2 separate regions of the Homo sapiens genome follow, and region 2 is linked to region 1. A link means that fine-mapping ties the variant in region 1 to the expression of a gene that starts in the linked region. Tissue or cell type: whole blood. Region 1 holds a variant in brackets; the other region holds the start of a gene. All regions are shown on one strand. Distances are between the middles of the regions. Region 1 overlaps ASB3 (ankyrin repeat and SOCS box containing 3). Region 2 holds the start of CHAC2 (ChaC glutathione specific gamma-glutamylcyclotransferase 2).

What was found.
Region 2: CHAC2 starts here. The variant in region 1 is fine-mapped to the expression of CHAC2 in whole blood (INTERVAL, PIP 0.97).

What each region holds. Positions count from the first base shown.
Region 1 is chr2:53,745,357-53,748,277 of GRCh38, reverse strand. All of the region lies in intron 3 of ASB3 (ankyrin repeat and SOCS box containing 3), which reads left to right. The region is part of intron 3 of GPR75-ASB3 (GPR75-ASB3 readthrough); the gene reads left to right. Among named protein-coding and RNA genes, the nearest start is that of CHAC2, 21 kb to the left of the region's middle. The variant T/C (reference allele first, on the strand shown) is at 1,520.
Region 2 is chr2:53,766,195-53,769,115 of GRCh38, reverse strand. CHAC2 (ChaC glutathione specific gamma-glutamylcyclotransferase 2) reads right to left here and starts at 1,312. Exons shown (of 3, transcript NM_001008708.4): 1 at 1,095-1,312. The coding sequence starts at 1,229. The region is part of intron 1 of ASB3 (ankyrin repeat and SOCS box containing 3); the gene reads left to right. The region is part of intron 1 of GPR75-ASB3 (GPR75-ASB3 readthrough); the gene reads left to right. RefSeq lists enhancers at 781-970, 991-1,340.

The DNA of each region.
Region 1 (2,921 bases):
ATTTTACAAGTTTGAGATTTTAAAAGGGAGAATAATTAGTCACCCTTGAATGACAGAAGACTTCATGTGCAGAGTGCTGTATTAACAGTAACAATAACATTTATTAAGCAGAGTGTATACTAAGCCTTGTGTGGGTGTTTTACATGAAGCAGATAATTGGATCTTCACTGTGATTCTGAGACATGTACTATTATTATTCCCACTTTTACAGGTGAGGAAACTTTAAAAAGACTGGATTTAGGAAGAGAAGAGCTATCTTTGAATCTTGATCTTGCTGTTGTCTGTGTTTTGGGTAGAAAACTGATTCAGTGAACTATTAAAAACATGTTTATTGACAAAAGGTTTCCTAATCACATACATTTGCGAAACACTATGTGCTATATCCCCCAGTGTAGAAAAACATGAAGACATTACATATGTGACTTATTGTGCCCACCCTGTCTGAAGTATCCACTGATCTCTTTATGCATTCTCTTTTAGTGTCTTCATCACTGACTCCAGTTAATTATTACTCCCTTGTTTATTTACTGCCCCCTTAACTAGAAAGAGTGTTCCATTAAGGCAGGGATTTTATTCATCTTGTTCACTGTTGTAACTCCCAAACTCAGTTTAGTGCCTGGTATATGGTAGGTATTCAGTAAATTATTTGTTAAATAAAAGAATGAAGGATTCTGAGAAGACCTCTCTTAAACAACATTTGTTTATCGCAGAGCTTTGAAACGTATTTGACTGTACTGTTCTTTCAGTCTCGTTGTCCAGCCTGGAGTGCAATGGCACAATCTCGGCTCACTGCAACCTCTGCCTCCCGGGTTCAAGTGTTTCTCCTGCCTCAGCCTCCCGAGTAGCTGGGATTACAAGCCCCCGCCACCACGCCTGGCTAATTTTTATATTTTTAGTAGAGATGGGGTTTCACCATGTTGGCCAGGCTAATCTGGAACTCCTGACCTCAGGCGATCTGCCTGCCTCAGCCTCTCTAAGTGCTGGGATTACAGGCATGAGCCACTGTGCCCAGCTGTATTCTTTTTCTTTATGGAACATTTAGGAATACCTCCAGAAACATTGATATTCCATGGGACTATTTGAGAAATGCTATTCTGGCCACATAGTTTACAGTTTCAAATTATTATTATTATTATTAGAGTCCCATTTATGAAATTCAGTATTGTGCCTACTTTTATTAGTATTTGGAGAAAATTAGAGATGCATAGTTTTTAGGGGTTTATATTTCAACATGTAGTTAACTTGTACTTTTTTATGTTAATGAAGCAAGGGATGGGAGATAATTCAAACCAGTAAATAACTTTAAATCACTTATTTTTAGTAGTAGGATTTATTTTGTTTCTGTGGCAGTGAATTTACCATTTTGTAAATGGTAAATTTGTATTGACTAAGAAATAAATCTTTTGTATTGACTAATACAAAATACCGTGCCTGGCCAATATAGTATTTAAAAAAAGGAAAGTAGAGCCTTAGTGTTTGTAAAAACATAATGTGGAAGGGCCAGGTGTGGTAGCTCACA[T/C]TTGTAATCTCAGCACTTTGGGAGGCCGAGGCGGGCGGATCACCTGAGGTCAGGGGTTCGAGACCAGCCTGGCTAACATGGTGAAACCTCGTTTCTACTAAAAATACAAAAAATTAGCTGGGTGTGGTGGCACATGCCTGTAATCTGAGCTACTTGGGAGGCTGAGGCTGGAGAATCACTTGAATCCGGGAGGGCGGACATTGCAGTAAGCCAAGATTGCGCCATTGCACTCCAGCTTGGACAACAATAACTCTGTCTCAAAAAAAAAAAAAAGAAAAAACCCCCCAAAAAACAGTGTGTGGAAGAATGGGCATGTATACATCAGTGTTGTGTATGGAAAAAATAGGAATGGACATATAACTCTTTAGTTAGATAATATGGGTGTCAGTGTCTTCTCTGCATCATGAATAATAGGACAAACTTTAGCACTCTGCCTTGCTCACCTTTACCTTTTTTTATTTTTTGATGTAGGGTCTTGCTCTTTTGCCGAGGCTGGAGTGCAGTGGCAAAATCATAGCTCACTACAGCCTCAAACTATTGGGCTCAAGTTATCCTCCTGCCTCAGCCTCTTGAGTAGCTGGGACCACAAGCACCGCCACCACACCCAGCTAATTTTTTTTTAATGTTTAATTTTTGTAGAGTTGGGGTCTTGCTATGTTGCCCAGGCTTGTCTTCAAGCGATCCTCCTCCCTTAGTTTCCCAAAGTGCTAGGATTACAGGCATGAGCCACTGCACTTGGACAATCTTTTTATCTTTTAAATAACCATATAGTGATTCCTGCTTCAGTCTATAATGGAAGAGTTTTAAAATTAAAACAAAATCCAAAATAATTCAAGGTTTGTATCAAACTACAAATAATTTCTAGATGAGGAAGAGTAGCTGGACTAGTTGGACTTAAAGTGAGAAAGGAAGGTTAACCTGTCTAGAATAGCTTCCTTTCCCATCTGTAGAGTTAGCTTCCAAAACTGAAAATTTGGAATATGTTGTTTGAGGTATTTTGTTTCTCTCCCTCAAGGGAAGCTATACTCTATTACATGTTATAGGACCTGTCCTGATGGCCCAGTTAGCACTAGCCTATTGCTAGAGGCTATAGAATATAAACCCAGAGGATCTAGGGGTAGAAAGTGAATATGGAACTATGGAAATCTCCCAGGTGACCGGAAAAGTTGTTGACATGAGAGGTGTGTTGGATCTGATTATGACTGAACATAAAGCTAAATGGAGGGACTCTGGAAAGTCGACTGCTCCACTGTTTGTAATGGGACTATCTTCTTTACACAGAGCTCACCAACATTTTAATAAAGATGAGCTTTAAAAGGGAACTCTTCAACTTAATGGCAGTAGGAATCAAAATGAGAAAACCTCACGAGAAAGGGGAAATTCAGGGAACATCTCATCTTTC
Region 2 (2,921 bases), 21 kb before region 1:
TGTGCATTTATCCTAAGCCATTGCCCCTTTTCAGGTCACTGTGTCCAACATCCCAATAGGCCAGTATAGTCTACTTAAAAGCCAAGTTCTTAACTGACCAACTCTAGTTGAGATAGAATGGTTTCTAATTCAGGTTCTTTTCGTGATTTTAATCCCATGTCTCTCTTATGAGCAGGTGCAAACTACTTTAGCGCCTTGATCTTTTCCACTTTCCATTGACCAATTTCCAAATTATTAGTTACCTCAATCTTAGTTTTCTTTATGGATTAGTTGTTTTGTAGCCAGTACAAAGCTGATTTGCATAAGCAGTGAGCTGCTGCTAATTCTCTATACATATATTGAGATTAATGTCTTTGTAGGACTGACTGAAAAGTGAATCAATGAACTTACATTTCATATTATAATTATGAGAACCATCAAGAAAGTAACATTAAAATAATGCTGGATATAGTAATGAGTTTGGTACTATGTTATTCATATAACCAGAACTTCATTTAACTTCACTAGTACTGAAAACCAAAGTGAGTTCCTTAATAACCAGCGAAAATTTTGGAAACTCATTCTGCAATCCTGTGTGTCAGAAAATAAAACTTTTGAAAGATGTAAAGAAATCCTAGAAGTAACATGCACGTTTAATCGCAAGCTCATGAAAGTCGGCTAGAATGCAGAAATGCCAACAAATTTAATTGCTAAAAAGCTGAATTTGCAACTTGATTTACTATTTCAACTCTGTGGTGACATGAGCATTCATCTTCCCGCCAATGGGACTTTTTTTCTTTTGGCAGAGGTTGCAGAGAGATGGAGTCCCCATCTCCGCACTCAGCCTGGTGCGAGCTCGTGCGCCTGTGCCCGCGCTTCTCGCCGTCTCTAGAGACTAACCACCGGCATCTTAAGCAGCTTCGGAAGGAGTGCCCGGGCTGGGTTAGAGATGGCGGGCAGGTGGCAGGGAAAATCTACAGAAATGTTACCCCAAGCCATGTGCTTTGGCCCCATGAAGCGCTAAGGTGTGGTTCTCTAGGGTGTGGGTGCTGTGTGTGGAGTTGGGGAGCAGGGGTCAGGGGGCAGTAAGTGTGGGGAGCTGACCGGCGCCTCACCTTGCCGGGGACCCCGCGGTGGTCCGTGCTGCCCTGCCAGAAGCGCCTGCTGTAGTTGGTGATGTATCCGACCAGCTTGTCCTGATAGGGGAAATCCACCTTCCAGATCAGGGACCCGTAACCAAAAACCCACATCTTCTCGCGGCTCCTCTGCCCCAGTGGCCGTGAACCCTAGCTGTCGCCGCGCCGCCGGGGACTGAAGCCTCCGGTAAGCGAGTAACCGGCCGCGCGGGGCGCAGGCGCGATGGCCACTTGGGGCGCAAAGCGCACTGGGAGTTTAGATCCAGAAAGATTTTCCGAGCGGATCTCAGTCAGCTTTATTTTATTTCCTTGATTAGGGTGTCAAGAGGCATTGACCTTCGGTGTAGTAAGCAATGGATTCTTTTGCAGCATCCGTAAATCACCCTAACCTACCTTTAGTGCCCGTGTGCAGAAAACTACAATACCCACAATGCTTTTTGGAGCTATTTGGCTCTGAAATTGGAACTGGGCTTATTTCTAACGGGGCCGAGGAAGGAGAAAAGAGCAGGAGTCGTCACTCGTGTCCAGATACGGAGGCGGTGTACCAGCACCGCAGGTAGCAAAGCACCTAGAAACACGTTTTGTTCTGCTTTGGAAATTAGATTTTTGCCTATATAACAGCAGCCAGAGGAATGTAATTCATATTTGATTTTATGTCCTGAAAAAAAAGTCTTTTGCCTTTCAAATAAAAGCAGAAAGTTTACAATAGAAGTTTACGCTTGTGAAAGAGTAGCTGTCATTTCAATGGGAATTGTTTATATATTTAAATTTTACACAAATTTATTCATCTTTAGTATTATCATTGGCTTGTTCACAAAAGAGCAGGCAAATGTTCTTAACTTGGGGCCCCTGTAAAGGCTTTGGAAACGAGCTGGGGAACCTGAATTTGTATACAAAATTTGGGGTGTACACTTTTCTAGGGGGAAACTACAGCTTTCATGAGTTTCTCCAAGGGGTCAAGGATCCTAAAATTTTTTGAAGATCTGCTCATTAGAGCTCTTGCTGCAAAATATTGTTTAGGAAATTCGCTTGGACTATCATGGCTGTGTCTCTGTGTGTGAAAACAGAAACCTTACCAAGTGATTGTTCTTTCTTGAAGATTTTTATACCATGATCTTGAATGCTAAAACACTCAGATTCAAGGGGTATTATTTGTTTTCTTATAAAGAAATCAGCAGGAAGCTGCTACCAGACAAACAAACAAAAAAAAAAGCAAGTCTTTTCCTATTTTCTCTAAGTTGTGGTTTCAAATTGCCTGATATGGTTGCTAACCCTTCTTTTTTGAAAAATTTTGAATACACAGAAAACTCAGATAAAAAGAGTGTAATGACCAATACCTTTCATCTAGATCCAGTAATTACCATTTTGCACAGTTGCTGTACTTCCTTTTTACTTTATTTATACTTTTAAATGGAGAACATTTGAAGTTGCTTGTGTTATGACATTTTACTGCCACATACTCTACATGTGTCTCATAAGAATAAGGACATTCATCCTAGAACAAGTTCCCTAAAAAAAAAGAATAAGGGCATTCTCCTAATAACTGTGATGCCATTATCACATCTGAGAAAATTAACAATAGTTATGTAATCAAATAAGTATTCCATATCCAAACTGCTTCATAGAGTCACTAACAAGAAATTGTGTCTTCGAGAGAGTCACATGAGAGCTATACTGGACTCTGACTGGAGGGGAACTTGAAGTGAGCATTGGAGGGAGGTGATGATGTGGGCAAGAACTCTGTTAAGAACTTTCTGGGCTATGTAGGAAAACCGGGCTCATCTCTTCATGGTGTTCTCTGTTGGT